Linked DNA regions of Homo sapiens. The protein of the gene in region 1 interacts with the protein of each later gene in a biochemical or structural test. Each region holds a gene or a part of one and is shown in the gene's direction. Other genes may lie near its edges. The genes, in order: TSHR and FLNB.

Evidence for each region.
Region 2: the proteins of TSHR (region 1) and FLNB interact in a test that uses a peptide from one of them, tested with the Homo sapiens proteins (one study listed by BioGRID).

What each region holds. Positions count from the first base shown.
Region 1 is NC_000014.9:80,950,399-80,959,457, forward strand, and holds the start of TSHR (thyrotropin receptor isoform 1 precursor), read left to right. Parts: upstream 1-5,222; 5' UTR 5,223-5,282; coding exon 5,283-5,452; intron 5,453-7,779; exon of another isoform or gene 7,780-7,887; intron 7,888-9,033; exon of another isoform or gene 9,034-9,059. UniProt on the Homo sapiens protein: Receptor for the thyroid-stimulating hormone (TSH) or thyrotropin. Also acts as a receptor for the heterodimeric glycoprotein hormone (GPHA2:GPHB5) or thyrostimulin. The activity of this receptor is mediated by G proteins which activate adenylate cyclase.
Region 2 is NC_000003.12:58,003,150-58,012,243, forward strand, and holds the start of FLNB (filamin-B), read left to right. Parts: upstream 1-5,272; 5' UTR 5,273-5,415; coding exon 5,416-5,707; intron 5,708-9,094. UniProt on the Homo sapiens protein: Connects cell membrane constituents to the actin cytoskeleton. May promote orthogonal branching of actin filaments and links actin filaments to membrane glycoproteins. Anchors various transmembrane proteins to the actin cytoskeleton.

The sequences.
Region 1 (9,059 bases):
TAGATGTTCAAAAAGTGTTATATAAAGAGACATGGAAAATATGAAAAAAGCCCCAAGTTGAACTTCTGGAGATGGAAATCCATTTTATGAGATAAAAAAGACGTTGGATGGGATTAGTGGCCAATTAAATATTACGGGAGGACAAAAAAGAATACTGAATTTGAAGACATAGCAAAAGAAACAATCCATAATCAAAGACAAAAAGAAAAATAATTTTTTACTGAGAAAAGCATCAATATTCTCTTTGTGAGACAATTTCAATTAGCCTAATAAGTGCAATAATTGGAATGCTCAAGGGAGAGGAAAGTGATAAGGGGGAAAATCATAGATGCAGAAATGGAGAAACAATGGCTAAAAATTTTCCAAGTCTGATGAAAACCATAAACACACAAATCCAAGAATCTCAAAATACCCCAAGCACAGGAAACTTGAAGAAAAGTACATCAAGGCACATTACAGTGAAATTGCTCTCAACAAGTGACAAAATCTGAAAAGCATCCCGAGTAAGAAAAAAAAAAAAAAAAAAGCAGATTATAAAGGAGCAAAGAAAACTTTGACATAAGATTTGTCCTTGTAAACAATGCAAGCAACAAGAAAATGAAGCAATGTTTTTAAAGTACTGAAAGTTAAAAATAATGTCAATCTATGATTCTATACCTAGTGATGATATCCTTTTTTAAAAAGAAGACAAAAGTAATACTTTTTCAGACACAGAAAAGCTGGAATAATTTATAACCAGCAGATATGTATGACAAAAAAATTAATGAATGTCATTCAAGCAAAAGGAAAGTGACAGCAGTGAAAAATATGGATCAATACTAAGGAATGAGAAAGACCAGAAGGGGTAACTGTCTTATTATTTGAATCCCTTTAAAAGATAATAACACTGTATTATGGGATTTATAACCTATGTATGAGTAAAATGTATGGCGATGGAAGCATAAAGGTTAGGCAGGAGAGGAGAAATGGAGTATAAACAAGCATTCAACAAGTACAGTGTTGAAGGGTTCTTTTAAACCAAGTATAAATTGGTATAATATCAACTGAATGTGGACTATGATAACTTAAACGTACATGCTATAAACCTTAAAGCAATGAGTATAATAACCAGAGTTATAGCTAAGATTCAGCAAAGAAGATAAAACGGAATCATAAAAATTCCTTAATGACTCCAAACATATGTTTAAAATAAAAGGAGAATTGGATCAAATAACAATGGAGAAATAGAAAACTAATAGCAAGATTATTCACTTAAATGTAATGTGAATAATGACATTAAATGTAAATGATCTATACAAACCAAACAAAAGGCAGAGACGGCGAGACTGAAAGCAAGACCCAACTCTATGCTATTTATAAGAACTGCACATTTAATATAAAAACTCAAAGAGGTTAAAGTATGAAAAAATCATACCATGATAACGCTGATCAAAAGAAAGATGGATTGGCTCTACCAATAACAGAAAAGTAGATTGAAGAGCAAAGGATATCACAAGGTATAAAGAAGGCCATTTAATAACAATGAAGAGAACAAGAAAATAATAGTCCCAAACACGTATTTACCTAATAATAGAACTTCAAAATACATGAACTTTAAATTGCATGAAGAAAAACCTGATAGAAATGCAATGAGGGGGAAAAAAAACAAATCCCCAATTGTAGTAAAAAATTTCAGTACCCATGTCTCAACAATTGATATGACAAGTAGACTTTAAAGTTAGCAAAAATACAAAAGACTTAAACAATACTATCAACAACTTGACCTAATCACATTTGTAGAACACACAACTCCACAAAAGCTGATCACTTATTTTTTTTCAAGTACACACTGAACATTTTACCAAGATTGACCATATTCTGAATCATAAAATGAGTCTCACTAAATTTAAAAGTGTTCAAGTTATACAAACTATTTTCCCTGTCTATAATAGAATTAATTTACAAATTAACAACAGAATATCTGAGAATTCCTCAAATATTTGGAAACTAAACCACATGCTTCTAAAGAATCAAGGAAGAAATCTAAAAGAAAAACTAAAAAGTATTTTAAACTGAATACAAATGAAATTACAAGATATCGAAACCTGTGGGATGTCTCTAAAGTAGTATAGGGAAAGTCTACAGCACTACACACATACAATATTATAAAAGAAAAATGGCCTCAAATCAGTGACCTCAGTCTTAAGAAACCTCACCTTAAGAAGTAAAGAAGAGCCAATTAAACCCCAAGTAGGCAGAGTAATAAAATAATAAAGATCAGAGCATATATCAATGAAATAGAGCACAAAAAAAAATAGAGAATCTAAGAAACAAAAATTTGCTTCTTTGAGAATATGAATAAAATTGATAACCCTCTGGATAAAGTACTTAGGTGAAAAAAAGAAGATACAAATTATCAATATCAGGTATGACAGAGTTGACATCAGAATAGATTATATAAATATAAGAGGATAAGAGAATATTATGAACAAACTCATGCCAATAAATTCAACAATTTAGATGAAATAGACAATTCATTATATGACACAAACTGCCCAGGCTACCTCAAGAAGAATTATATGACTTGAATAGCCCTAAATCTATGTTTAGAAACTGGATTTATAGTTAAAAACCTTCCAATAAGGAAAATGCAAGGTTCCAACAGCTTCACTGGAGAATTCTACCAAATAAGTAAGAAAGGAATGATATCAGTTCTACACAAACTCCTATAGAAATTTAAAGAGGAAGGAATATTTCCCAACTTATTCTGTGATGGAAGAATTAATTGCCCTCATACCAAAATTTGACAAAGAAGTTACAGAAAAGAAAATAACAGACTACTATCCCTTGTGAACGTCTATGTAAAACTTTTAAACAGAATTTTAGCAAATCCAATGAAGGAGTATATTAAAAAGATGATAAACACGGCCGGGCACGGTGGTGCATGCCTGTAATCCCAGCACTTTGGGAGGCTGGGGCGGGCGGATCACGAGATCAGGAGTTCCAGACCAGCCTGGCCAACATGGTGAAACCCCGTCTCCACTAAAGACACAAAAAATTAACCGGGCGTGGTGGCGGGCGCCTGTAATCCCAGCTACTCTGGAGGCTGAGGCAGGAGAATCCCTTGAGCCCGGGAGGCGGAGGTTGCAGTGAGCCAAGATCGTGCCATTGCACTCCAGCCTGGGCGACAGGGCGAGACTCCGTCTCAAACAAACAAACAAAAAAAGGATAAATACATCATGATCAAGTGAGATTTATCCCTGCAATTCAAGGTGGGTTTAACATTCGAAAATCGATCACTATGATTCACCACATTAATAAACTACCATGGAACCATCACCACGAACAAGATTTAAAACAGTTTTATTACCCACAAAATTCTCTGGTGTTCATTTGTAGTCAGCCCTACCCTAGGCCTTTGCAACCGCTGATCTTTTTCCTGTCCCTATGGTTTTGCCTTTTTGAGAAAGCTATATAAATGAATCATTAATATGAATAATTACATATAAATACGTAATATTTTGAGTTTGGCTTTTTTCACTTAACATTATGCATTCAAGATTTGTTCCATAACAATACCATGGTAATTTTTAAAAAAACAACAACAAAAGCCCGGGTGCGGTGGCTCAAGCCTGTAATCCCAGCACTTTGGGAGGCCGAGGCGGGCGGATCACGAGGTCAGGAGATCGAGACCAGCCTGACTAACACAGTGAAACCCCGTCTCTACTAAAATTACGAAAAAATTAGCCGGGCGTGGTGGCGGGCGCCTGTAGTCCCAGCTACTCGGGAGGCTGAGGCAGCAGAATTGCTTGAACCTCGGAGGCAAAGGTTGCAGTGAGCCGAGATCGCGCCATTGCACTCCAGCCTGGGCGACGGAGCAAGACTCCGTTTCAAAAGAAAAAAAAAAAGAAAAGAAAATTTGTGCATGTTGTATCAGCAGTTCATTCATTTTTATTGCAGAATAGTATTCCAATGTGGAGGTATCAGAGTTTGTTTATCCATTATCTAGTCGCGAGACACTTGGTTCGTTTAGTGGTTATGAATAAAGCTTCTGTAAAATTTGGAATACACATATTTTAAATGTACGGTTTAATGAATTTTGATAAATGTATACATCCACTTAACCTCCAGCCTAATTACGATATGGAAACCCTGTGTGTTCCCTCCTGTCTTTTTCTAGTCAATCTTTCCTAACCTTTATTCTGATTCCCATAACCACAACTTTTTCCTTCCTGTCCTAGCCAAGTTCATATAAAAGGAATTATGCAGTATAGAAGGAATTGACATTCCTTTTATCCCAAGAGGAATAAGTGATTGAAGACTTTTAAGAAGGAAATAGGCACAATCTGATTTATGTTTGTAATGATCTTTTTGGCTACTGTGCGAAGAATGGTGAGTATGCCACTTAAGTATTATTTTTCTTCCCATCTTCCAGGGGGAATATGACTCAATGAAATTCTTGGGTCGACCAGAATTTCCATACTGGACCCATTATTAAGGGAACCTGGAATTATTTCTGCCATTCCCGATTCTTCCCAGCAGATGGCCCCAAAGTTCAGTTCCTGAATTGCCTCGCGGAGCCGCGGGCTGCAACGTGAGGCGGCCGCTGCCAGTCGACTCAACCACCGGAGTGGCCCCTGCAGTTGGATAGCAACGAGAATCCTCCAGGGGTGCAGGGCGACGGCTTCGGCCGCACCGCGGGCTAGCCAGGGCTGCGTGCCCGCCTCTGACCCTCAGCAGAGGTGTCTCTGGCCAGGAGGAGCTGAAGTTCTGCAGGACATTGGTCCGCCCGCGGACAGTCCACTCCGCGGGGACTTTCTCTGGATAAGGAGTGCGTGCGAGTGGCTCCCAGGCAGACAGGGTGTCTAGAAGGCTACACGCTAGGGAAGGTGGCTCCTTGGATTTAAAGAGGAGGAAAGGAGGGGGCATCTAAACTAGGCTTTGGAGAGAACTAATGGGAGGGGCGCCCGGGGTGGGGGGGCGGGCTGGAAAACAGAGGGGACAGCCAGGACTGGTGTTGGGTGTCAGGGAACAGACGGAGCGGACTGCGTGGGTCCAGCCAAGGAAAGTGAAGCAAGCAGACTTGTTTGGGTCAAGGTTGCCTAGGGAAGCGGAGCACTTAAGTGCCTCTTTTTCCCCTTCTCCAGCCTCCTCCACAGTGGTGAGGTCACAGCCCCTTGGAGCCCTCCCTCTTCCCACCCCTCCCGCTCCCGGGTCTCCTTTGGCCTGGGGTAACCCGAGGTGCAGAGCTGAGAATGAGGCGATTTCGGAGGATGGAGAAATAGCCCCGAGTCCCGTGGAAAATGAGGCCGGCGGACTTGCTGCAGCTGGTGCTGCTGCTCGACCTGCCCAGGGACCTGGGCGGAATGGGGTGTTCGTCTCCACCCTGCGAGTGCCATCAGGAGGAGGACTTCAGAGTCACCTGCAAGGATATTCAACGCATCCCCAGCTTACCGCCCAGTACGCAGACTCTGTGAGTACCCGGGAGAGATCAGGGTAGGACCCAGAGATCAAGGGCATCTGCAGAGGTGGCCCGAAGTGCACAAAAGCAGCTCAATAACAGCCCGAAGTAGTGTGTGAGTGTGTGTATGTGTGAGTGAATGTCTGTGTGTGTAGATGTGTGTGTGTGCTAAAAACTTAATCGCCCACACTTGGGAAGGTATCATTGTTGACATCCTCATTCCCAACACAGGAAAATGTTACAAAACTTTGGTGTACAATGACCGTGAGAGCTGTTCTTTCCAACAAGCTGCTATTCAGCACTTTGCCTAACCCTGGTTGAATCTGTTTTATTTGAATTAATAAGGATAATGGCATCTCAGGAACTGACCTTTTTGATCTTACCTTGGGTAATAAAAAATTGCAAAAATATGTATTTCTCCTTTTTGTTTCTCTAGATGGGAGGTTATCTTAGCAGTTCTGCTGATTCATCAAATTGTTGACAAAGGTTTAAGCAGGGGCCCTTTTTAAAATGAACTGTCTATACAGTATCTGTAAGTTACTTACTCAAATGTGAACTGCCAGTGAAATAGTACGTCCAGAACCCTGCTTTGTGATAGAGGTATAAAGAAATGAAATTTCATAAAAGTATAGTACATTTATCTGCATGTTAAATGTTACCAGATTAGAAACCTGATGTTAAATAAGATTATACACACACAACCTGTTTCTTAACAGCAATTTAAATCAGTGATCATTGAAATTGTAGACAAAACCAAGGGAATAAAGTCTGTCTTGATTAGTTAAAAAGAGAACAGAAAGAAAGGACAGTAAAACAACCTAGGCTGGTTAAATCCAGTTAAGATAAAAAAAAATGCAGGTTATTAAAGAAAATGTTGATAGATGAAAAGAAATGGGAAAGTTGCACCTCTAGATTTTCTCAAGAATTTAGCTCATGAAGACTATTTAACAGTAGATGAATATTTGAGCACAGAGATATATTTCTGTGCTCAGAGATATCCTAGTGTCTTAGCACACCTGAATTAATTAGTTCAATAACCTCCAAACAGTGTGGTAGTCATTCTCCATGCTGCCACCACAGAATAAGATGTGTAAAAGGTGTAATGGCCTCTTGATTACACCTCTACATAGGTTGCTTGTCACCTCTAGAATAAAATTCTTTTGTGCAGCCTACCAGATCTTTCAAGACCTAGTCAAGTCTTTCCAACCTCATTGCTCCTCATTTCTCTAACTTCCCCCTCCTGCTGAGAACTTCTGGCACTTCCCCAAAGGTCCCTGCTGTTACAGCTGCCCTTGCCTTTCTTCCCACTTTCTGGCCCCTCTGCCTGAAGCACATTTCACCCATTTCTTCACCCAGCTAATGCCTACTCCCAGATCCAGATCCTGGATCAACCCTGCAGGAAGCTTCTCCTGACCCATGACCTTCAGGCTGGGTAAGCTATACCCCCCTTCCCAACAGCGTTCTCTGCATGAACCTAACCCTAGCCCTTAGACATTGTCTACTTTCTTGTAACTTGTTATTTATTTGCATGCCCACTCAAGCAGGACACAAGCTTCTCTAACATAGGGAACTGCCATTCAACCCCGAATTCCTGAAACCCTGGAACTACTTAGACACTCAGAAAAAACAAAAAAAAAAAAACTTAAGTGAATAAATAAACAAATGAATATGCCAGGTCTCTGAATGTCCACTCTATGTTGGGGAGAAAGAAATCCAAAGACATCACTTCTTCAGAGACTTCTTTAACAGTGGCAGAAATTCAAGTCATTGAAGAGAGATGTGGCTCTGACAGTGAAAAGGAACTCGTAGACATCCTGTTTAAAATTCCACCAAAAGTTGAGAAAGAAAGGGTAATGGAGAATGAGCAATGGAACAGGAGTCAGGAAACCAGCATTCTCTTTAGCCCTTCTTTACTAACCATGAAATTGTGTAAGATGACTGATTTGGAAGGAGCCAAATTTCCTTCTGGGTAAAAGAGAATGTTCAACTAGGTGCTTTCTAGGTGATGACATGATGCTGATGAGAATAGTCTGAGGGAAGGCACTGAATCACAAGAAAAAGACATAAAGACAGTGGCAAGGAGGATCTGCCCTTGAGAATAATGGAGAGGGAGGTAGTATGTCCTGAAGAATAAAGTTATTCTGAGATCGAAAAGAGAAACCTGATAAAAAGTGTGGGTAAAACAAAATGGTAGTCTCCTTTGAACAATGGCTACTACCATCTGCAACAGTAGAAAAATGATTTTTAAATCTTTTGGGGGCGGTAGAACTCTTTGTTGAAGAAAAGCATATGAGAGAAGTAAAACATGTAAAGCTAACAATTATATTGTGTTTACTTACGGGGGCGGGGGGTCCTGTTCTCAGCGCTTTGCATGAACTCACCCAGTGAATCCTCACCAAATCCAATTAAGTAGGTGATGTTATTATGCTCATTTTATAGATGAGGACCTTGAGGCACAAAAATAAAATGAAGTAATTTGCTCAATGTTGCACAGCTTGTAAGTGGTAAAGTCAGGATTTGAATATCATATCATCAACTATGGAGCCTGCACCCTTAAGCCACCACTCTCAGATGAGAAGTGTGTCTCACCACACCAGTGTTCCCCTGATGGTCATAGGCTTTGGAGAAAAAAGTCTGAAAACAAGTCACATTCAGTAAACCGACTGATAACCTCGGGGGCTATTCATCAGATGCAAGAACTCAGAAAGCAGGAGGTTAGCAGGGAAAGGAAAGAAGAAGGAAGGAAGAAAGAGAGAGTGGAAGAGAGGCAAGGAGGACAAGAAAGACTAAGTTAGTCTTTCTTGACAAGAAAATCTAGATCTTTTTTTACATCTTTCTAGACAAGAAAGATCTAAGTTATGGAAGGTATTCCTTGCTGAAATAAACCAAGTTTTTGTCATTAAAAAGCCGTTCTGGGTGGTGACCTCTTTTTGGAATCTACTTAAATTATACAGGATCTACTACTGAGGCATGTTCTCTCACAAGTTTTGTATTATTCAGAGTGTACCTCTTTTTAAAGTTTTTGAAGAGCTTACACTGGTTTAAAATGTAAGGTATTTTGTTCCTGTAGAGTTATTTGCATTACTTCTGCAACCTTCATTAAGATGCTGTATAACCACTTCTTAGACATTTTACAAATTATGATGGTGCCGAGAACAACTCTTTCTAAACTTTATCTTCTACTCATAGATTATTGTTCTGAAAGGTAAACAGCTCTCTTGCCCTACTACCCATATCCCAGCCCCGTGGTCTTATGGATGCAGGGGAGAGAGTTACGGACTGTGGCCCTCACTGAAGAAGTGATGCTGTATCTTTTCCTCACTCCTCCCCTCCAGAAGGGTATGATGCTTTACCTGAGTGGAAGGTGAGGGAGAGCTGGGATCCCTACTTCCCCCACTGCCAGTGGAACATTCTAGAATCTTTGATGTGTAGGTAGTTTGAAAAAAATCACTCTCTTCCATTGAAAATTACTGATTTAAGGAAACTTAAATGAAGCAAGAGAATAAAATTAAAAATTTAAATGTTGGCATATAATTATAGATCATATATCTCAAAACCAAGGATAACAAGATTGACCCATCACCCTCTCTTACTCAGAAAGTTGCCATTTGTTGCCTCT
Region 2 (9,094 bases), on another chromosome or scaffold:
GGAGTTGATCACATTTGCTCATTTCACCTAGCAGGGAGGAGGGCCCTGGGAGTCACACTGGCTGATAAGTTTTGATGGATGAGTGCGAATGGAGGAAAGTATGAGGAACTGAGGGCCTTGGTCGTGGGGGAGGAAGAGGTTACCAACTCTGCCTGGAGTGAATCTGCTGCTCAGGGGCCCACGGAATGGACAAAACCATGTCCCAGGCTTGGGGAGACCACGGGGACCCTTGGGCAAAATACAGCCTTTGGAGTTAGACCCAGGTTCAAGTCCAGCTTTGTCCAGTCATTACCAGCTGACCAATAGCAAATCTTATCACTTAATCACTAATGAGGGGAACAAGCATTCAAATATAGTCATGTGTACATAATGACATTTCTGTCAACAACAGACAGCACAACACATTACTGTTGTGTTTGTGGTGATGCTGGTGTAATCATAACCTTCTGTGCTGCAGTCCAGTAAAAATATAGCACAGGCCGGGGGCGGTGGCTCACACTTGTGGAGGGCCACCTCCACAAGTTGCAGTGAGCTGAGATCGCACCACTGCACTCCAGCCTGGGCAACAAGAGTGAAACTCCATCTCAAAAAAATAAAACAAACAAACAAACAAACAAACAAACACTTTTTATTGCCTGGGTGTGGTGGCTCACGCCTGTAATCCCAGCACTTTGGGAGGCTGAGGCAGGAGGATTGCTTGAGCCCAGGAATTTTAGACCAGCCTGGGCAACATGGCGAAACCCTGTCTCTACAAAAAATACAAAAATTAGCTGGGCATGGTGGTGCGCCCCTATAGTCCCAGCTACTCAGGAGGCTGAAGTGGGAAGATAACCTGAGCCCAGGGAGGTCGATAATAAAATTTTAAAAATTTTTAGTAGAGATGGGATTTCACCGTGTTGGACCAGGCTGATCTCGAACTCCTGGCCTCAGGTGATCTGTGCACCTCGACCTCCCAAAGTGCTGGGATTACAAGCGTGAGCCACTGTGCCCAGCCAACATACTTGTTTATTATCAAATATTATATACTGTACATAATTGTATGTTTTATATATGTATGTATGTGTGTGTGTGTATATATATATATATATATATATATATTTTTTTTTTTTTTTTAGACAGAGTCTTGCTCTGTCACCCAGGCTGGAGTGCAACGGCACCATCTTAGCTCACTGCAACCTCTGCCTCCTGGGTTCAAACCATTCTCCCGCCTCAGCCTCCCAAGTAGCTGAGATTACAGGCACTCGCCATCATGCCCCACTAATTTTTTTTGTATTTTTGTAGAGATGGGGTTCCACCGTGTTGGCCAGGCTGGTCTCGAACTCCTGACCTCAGGTGATCCGCCTACCTCAGCCTCCCAAAGTGCTGGGATTAGAGGCGTAACCCACCGTGCCTGGCCAATAAAAAGTTTTAAATACAGAAAAAAGCTTACAGAATAAGGATTTAAAGAAAGAAAGAATTTTTGTACAGCTTATAATGTGTTTGTGTTTTAAGCTGTTATTACAAAAGCCAAAAAGTCAAAGAATTAAAAAATATATAAAATTAAAAAATTACAGTAAGCTAAGGTTAATTTCTTTTTTATTTTTCTTTTTTCTTTTTTTTTTTTTTTTGAGACGGAGTCTCACTCTATTGGCAGGTTGGAGTGCAGTGGCGCGATCTCGGCTCACTGTAACCTCCACCTCCCGGATTCAAGCAACTCTCCTGCCTCAGCCTTCCGAGTAGCTGGGACTACAGGTGCGTGCCACCCCACCCAGCTAGTTTTTGTATTTTCAGTAGAGACAGGGTTTCACCACGTTGGCCAGGATGGTCTTGATCTCTTGACCTCGTGATCCACCCGCCTCAGCCTCCTAAAGTGCTGGGATTACAGGGGTGAGCCACCGTGCCCGGCCTCTAAGGTTAATTTCTTATTGCAGAAGAAAAAGATTAAAAAAATAAACTTAGTATAGCCTCAGTGTACAGTGTTTATAAAGTCTACAGTAGTGCACAGTAATGTCCTAGGCCTTCACAGTCACGTACCACTCACTCACTGACTCACCCAGAGCAAATTCCAGTGCTGCAAGCTCCATTCATGGCAAGTGCCCATACAGGTAGACTATTTTTATCTTTTTATTTATTTATTTAGTTAGTTAATTTTTGAGATGGAGTCTCTCTCTGTCTTCCAGGCTGGAGCGCAGTGGTGCGATCTTGGCTCACTGTAACCTCTGCCTCCTGGGTTCAAGCAATTCTCCTACCCAAGCCTCCCGAGTAGCTGGGATTACAGGCGCCTGCCACCATGCCTGGCTAATTTTTGTATTTTTAGTAGAGACCGAGTTTTGCCATGTTGGTCAGGCTGGTCTCGAACTCCTGATCTCAAGTGATCCACCCGCCTTGGCCTCCCAAAGAGCTGGGATTACAGGTGTGAGCCACCACGCCCCGCCCAATTTTATCTTTTATATCGTATTTTTATTATACCCTTTTAATGTTTAGATTCACAAATACTTATTGTAACAATTGCCTACAGTATCAATATAGTAACTTGCTGTACAGGTTTGTAGCCCAGGGGCAACAGGTGATCCCCTCTAACCTGGATGTGTGGTCGCCTGTACCATCTAGGTCTGTGTGAACACACTCTCTGGTGTTCCTATCATGACAAAATCCTCTAGCATTCCTGTTGTTAAGCAACACATGAGTGTAGTTACTGAGTCCCTATTGTGAGCCAGGGCCGGGTAATATATTCTCTCCCCCAGGCTGTTGTGACCATTTCCAGTGAGTCAGTTCATCTGTCTGAACAAAGCACTCTGGCATTGATTGTATGCAAATAACCTGTTACAGAATGGTTCTACCCATAAACTGGCTGGCCTCTTTTGAGCAACCCTCAAAGTTGCAAGCCCTTGCCCTCTGTCCTGGTCAACCTCTCTTCCTCAGAAGCTTGCCTGCTCTGAACTCCTCTCCCAAACCGGGTTAGGAGCCCCTTCTCTGGTATCAGGGCACCCTGTGCCTCTCTTACAGACTTGCATTATGGTTCTAACTGTGCTGTGTGGCCTGGGCAAGCCGCTCAACCACTCGGTTATTTCTTCTTTTTTTTTTTTTGAGACAGAGTTTCACTGTTATTGCCCAGGCTGGAGTGCAATCTTGGCTCACCACAACCTCTGCCTCCTGGGTTCAAGCGATTCTCCTGCCTCAGCCTCCCAAGTAGCTGGGATTACAGGCATGCGCCACCACGCCCAGCTAATTTTTTGTATTTTTAGTAGAGCTAGGGTTTTTTCATGTTGGTCAGGCTGGTCTCGAACTCCTGACCTCAGGTGATCTGCCCACCTTGGCCTCCCAAGGTGCTGGGATTACAGGTGTGAGCCACTGCACCCGACTTGAAAGAAATTGCTTTGCACTGTGCTTGGCACAGAGGAACAGCAGGTGTTCATTCAATGCTTGCTGTTGTAATTATTCAGGCTTTTATCAACAGAGGGCTGGCCTGAGACTCTGCCATATCTCAGAACCTAGCACAGAACCTGGATGAGTACAGAGTAAGTGCTCAATGTATGCTGTGGTAGGCAGAGTAATAGCCCCCAAAGACGTTCACATCCTAACTCTCAGGACCTGTGAACATTCCCTTAAATGGCAAAGGGGAATTAAGGTTGCAAACAGGATTAGGGTTCTTAATCGGCTGATTTTAAAATAGGGAGATCATGTTGGACTAACCAGCTGGCCCAATGTCATCTTAAGAGTCCTTAAAAGGGCCAGGTGTGGGGAGGTTGAAGCTGCAGGGAGCCGAGATTGAGTCATAGCACTCCAGTTTGGGAGACGGAGTGAGACAAAAAAAAGGCTGGGCAAGGTGGCTCATGCCTGTAATCCCATCACTTTGGGAGGCAGAGGCTGGTGGATCGCTTGAGGTCAGGAGTTCAAGACCAGCCTGGCCAACATGGTGAAAGCCCGTCTCTATTAAAAATACAAAAATTAGCGGAGCGTGGTGGCGGGTGCCTGTAATCCCAGCCACTCAGGAGGTTGAGGCAAGAGAATTGCTTGAACCCAGGAGGAGGAGGTTGCAGTGAGCCGAGATTGCACCACTGGACTCTAGCCTGGGCAACGGAGTAAGACTCCATCGCAGGAAAAAAAAAAAAAAGGAAGATGTGCCTATGGAGAGAGGACTGTCTGAGGTCTGAGAGACTCCACCTGACATTGCAGGCTTGCTTTTCTGTTTTTTTTTTTTTTTTTTTTTTTTTTGAGACGGAGTTTTGCTCTGTCGCCCAGGCTGGAGTGCAATGGCACCATCTCAGCTCACTGTAACCTCTGCCTCCCAGGTTCAAGCGATTCTCCTATCTCAGCCTTCCCAGTAGCTGGGATTACAGGTACGCGCCACCACACCTGGCTAATTTTTGTATTTTAAGTAGAGATGGGGTTTTACCATGTTGGCCAGGCTGGTCTCGAACTCCTGACCTCAGGTGATCCACCCACCTTGGCCTCCCAAAGTGCTGGGATTACAGGTGTGAGCCATTGTGCCCAGCCCATTGCAGGCTTTCACAGAGAAAAGGGGCAGGAGTCAGGCGCGCAGGCAGCTTCTGGAAGTTAGAAAACACAAGGAAACAGATTCTTCCCTACAGCCTCCAGAAGGGAATGCATCCTGCCAACACTTTGTTTTTAGCTCAGCAAGACCTGTGTGGGCCATCGAACCTACAGAACTGAAGGATAATACATTTGTGGGTGTGTGTTTTCAAAGACACTAAGTTTTGGTAACTTGTTACAGCAGTAACTGGAAACTAAGACATGCAACAAGCCTTATTGTTCATTTTTACCACCACTACTGGGCTGTTGGTTATGGTGGAATTACACTTTTCTCTTCCATTAGGCTGTGTGAACTCCTTGAGGTTGTGCAATACGTTTGTCTGATTTACTACTGGTTAGCAGGCTCTGAGAAGAATGGCTGGTACACAGGCGGAGCTCAATAAAAGCCCTTACTGAATTTTATTCAATCTATATGTGGATGAAGACCTCCGCCCCGCGCGCCCCTCCCGCAAGTCCCACTGAGGCCCGACCCATTCTGTCCGGCTCCCAGCCCCCGCGGGTCCCCCCACCCCGGGGCTGACCGGGTGATTCAGGCAGCCCTACATCCTGCTGGGGTGGTGGGCTTCGAGCGCGGGTCCCAGGACGCAGTGGGGCGCAGTGCCTGCGGCAGGCGGCAGGAGGCGAGCGTGGCCCAGGAACTCCCGCGGGAGGGTCGGGACGGGGCGGGGCTTGGGGGCGGGGCGGCTCAGCGCGCAGGCGCGGGGCCAGGCGCCTCGCGCGGCCAGGGGCGGGCGGCCGCAGAGCAGCACCGGCCGTGGCTCCGGTAGCAGCAAGTTCGAACCCCGCTCCCGCTCCGCTTCGGTTCTCGCTCCTTCGGCCCTTGGGCCTCCAAACACCAGTCCCCGGCAGCTCGTTGCGCATTGCGCTCTCCCCGCCACCAGGATGCCGGTAACCGAGAAGGATCTAGCTGAGGACGCGCCTTGGAAGAAGATCCAGCAGAACACGTTCACACGCTGGTGCAACGAGCACCTCAAGTGCGTGAACAAACGCATCGGCAACCTGCAGACCGACCTGAGCGACGGGCTGCGGCTCATCGCGCTGCTCGAGGTGCTCAGCCAGAAGCGCATGTACCGCAAGTACCATCAGCGGCCCACCTTTCGCCAGATGCAGCTCGAGAATGTGTCCGTGGCGCTCGAGTTCCTGGACCGTGAGAGCATCAAGCTCGTGTCCATCGGTGAGTTCTCTGGCCGGGCCCAGGCGCCCACTGTGGTGCCGACCCGCCCCCGCGCGTGCACCCCTGCGGAGGGCGAGGATTTCCCGCAGCGCGCCCCCACCTCGGAGATAAGGGGGAGTCGTCCCCAGGGGTGGGTTATAGGGGGCCTAGACCCCCTCCCCGGTGTCTTCCCCTGGGATGGGACCTGTTGTGATCGCTCCCCGCCATCCGCCCCAGCAGTGCACCTTTGGCTGGCTAAGGGTTGAGGGTTTGGGCTGGGGTCACAGGAGGAGAGGTGGAGTTGTTGCATTTCTCTACACCTGGGGCGCCCCTATGGGAGCTAGGGGACTAGAAACCCTCGTTCGCTGTCCCCGGGGGCGGGCCCTAGGGTCAGATGCTCCGCGGAGTGCTCTCCCTGCTGCGCCCAGGTTGGTGCTCTCAGAGGCAGCTGAATGGGCGTTGGCTCGGAGGCCGGGCCGTGAGACCTGAGGAGGAACCGTTCTCTGCGCCTGGGGCCTCCCTGCCCAGGTGGAGACAGAGACCTGGTACCTTCCCCTGCCGTCGCTGGAATGGGTGTGGGCCCCGAGGTTGCAAGGGTAGGCGCGGGTGTGTGTCCTCGCTCTCTCTGCTCCCAGCTCAGCTCTGGCCGCGCGCCGCAGGTTGAACCCACTCCTTGCTGCCGAAGTTATAATTTAGAGATGGTGGTGGTAACAGTAATTGCTGTCTTGTAGGGAGCCCAACTAGCGTCCACTGTGTACCGTCAGCCTTCTAAGTTATCTCCGTCCCTACGCATCCTGCCATCTGGGGTGAGGCTAGACCCATTTTACAGATAAGGGGGTCCGGAGGGTTAATTGACCTGTCCAAGGTCAGCAAGTAGGGCCCAGCTGAGAACTGAAGGAAGTGGGCAACAGTTAGAAGGAGGCTTTGTTTTCCTCTCCTCTCCCAAACCTACACCAGGGTCTTCCTGAAAGGAGGGAGGGAATTGGTGTCTCTTGCTGGACTGGGCCTTCTGGTCTGGGGAGGAAGAATAAGGATGAAGTCTCCCTTGTGGTCTGAGATAGTTGGAGGCTTCCCAGAGGGCCACAAGGCTACTGATAGTGTGGGCTGTGATGGTAGGGGCTGTGATGTGTGTGTGCATGTGGGCGTTTGTGCAGAGAACGTGTGTACACACATAGCATGTGTGTATAGCATGTGCATATGCAAAGAGTTTGCATGTACACGGAATGTATGCAGAGAATGTGTATCCACCTACACGTGTGTATGGGTGTGTGTATGTGTGTGTGTGTATGTGGGTGGGTGGGTGTGGGTTGGGGCAGAGGAGGGTTCTGGGTCTGGATCTCTTCCTAAGGAGAACCAGGGACTGGCCCTGGCCTGTGATTTGGGTCTCTTCCTGAGGAAACCAGGTCACTATAGTGACCCTAGTGACAGGAAGAAAGGGAGATGGGTGTGGCTGCCAGGACTTTCTCCAGTGGAAAAGGGATTCCCTCTAGGCTGAGCCTCCCCTGGGCCTTAGGGCCTCACCCTTCCCTTCCCCCACACCTGTCCTGGCAGGTAAGGCTGCTTCCTGCTTCCTGGGCCCAGATGGCAGCCGCACCACCCAGCTGATCTCCAGCAGCCCTCCCCCTCCCCAAGGGTGGCTTCCCTGCAGAAGAATCTGCATGGCACGCTGTTGTCTTCTTTCTGGGGTCCATCTCCTGTACTGGGGAGGGAGAACCTCAGAATCTCCTGGAATTCTTTACCATTCAGAAACCAGCCTCCCCTCTGAAGAATCCCAAGGCCCAGCTGGGCTCAATTTGGATCTGTTCTTTGTTTTAAAAATGTGTATTTATTTAATTAACTGAATAAAGAAACTTAAAGTAAACCAGAAGTATCCAAATACGACATGAAATCTCTAAAACAACAACAAAACCAAACCAAACCGCAGCACTAGCAAATCACAGACTGCCTGATCTACCCACTGTTTACAGAGGCAGCAGCTACTTCCAGCACTGTCTCTCATCAGTGCCCGGGGCTGTGGGTCTCATTCTAGATTTTGTCTACATTTTTTTACATGGTTCTCCTGATTCCCTGCTCCCCCTCCCCACCACCGCCCCGCCTGGAGATGGAGCCTTGCTCTGTCTCCAGGCTGGAGTACAATGGTGCCATCTCTGCTCACTGCAACCTCCACCTCCCGGGTTCAAGCGATTCTTCTGCCTCAGCCTCCTGAGTAGCTAGAATTACAGGCACATGCCACCACGCCCGGCTAATTTTTGTATTCTTAGTAGAGATGGGGTTTCACCATGTTGGCCAGGCTGGTCTCGAACTCTTGACCTCATGATATGCCCGCCTCGGCCTCCCAAGTGCGGGGGTTACAGCCCTGAGCCACCGCGCCCAGCCCGGTCCTCCTTTTATTTTCGAATCCACTCAGGCCCTAGCTACTCCCATTGTCCCGACGTTCCAGGGTTAGTTAGCTTCCCTTCCTCTGTGCTGGGCCTGTGGGCTGTTGGCAGCTTCTTCCTGTTCCTACCACAACTTGCATTCTATTTTTTTCCTTTTTAATGATTTCTTGGATCATATTCCCCAGAGTGACATTCCTGGGTTAAAGGGTGTGACCACATTTATGACTTGTATCATTGGCTGCCTAATTGCTCTCCCGAGAGATCTTGCAACAAACAGGTTTTCCAGCCTCTGGAGACCACAGAGAGCCCTGGCAAGTGCCAGGACTGCTGTGGGGATAAAGCAGGAGGCTTCTTCCCTAAGCTCTTGAGGCTGTTGTGGGTAATGGTCCTTCATCCTTCAAGGCAAAGTTACCTCCAGCTTGGACTAAGGTTCATATATTCACTGCTTAGGTTGTGTTACATTGTGCTGACAATGACACTAGCTTCAATTTGGGGGCACCTACTGGGTGTTAAGTGTGTTCTGTTGATCACCCCATTGAATTTTCATGCTAATCATTGATTGACAGCAACTACTGCCCTATCTCTAATGATCTGCTTCTGCAAGTCACTTAGAGAGTTCAGGGCTTAACACTGTCCTGGGCATGTGTTGCTTAGAAAATGGCGCCTGTTAATTAAATAAGGTGCTGTCTAATAATTATCTCAAAAGTAATGCCAGGGCTGGATGCCGTGGCTCACGCCTGTAATCCCAGCACTTTAGGAGGCCAAGGTGGGTGGATCACCTGAGGTCAGGAGTTCGAGACCAGCCTGGACAACATGGTGAAACCCTAGCTCTACTAAAAATACAAAAATTAGCTGGGCATGGTGGTGCACACCTGTAGTCCCAGCTACTCGGGAGGCTGAGGCAGGAGAATTGCTTGAACCCGGGAGGTGGAGGTTGCAGTGAGCCGAGGTCTTTGTGTAACTGCACTCCAGCCTGGGAGAGCGAGACTCTGACTCAAAAAAAAAAAAAAAAAAAAAAGTCATGCCCGAA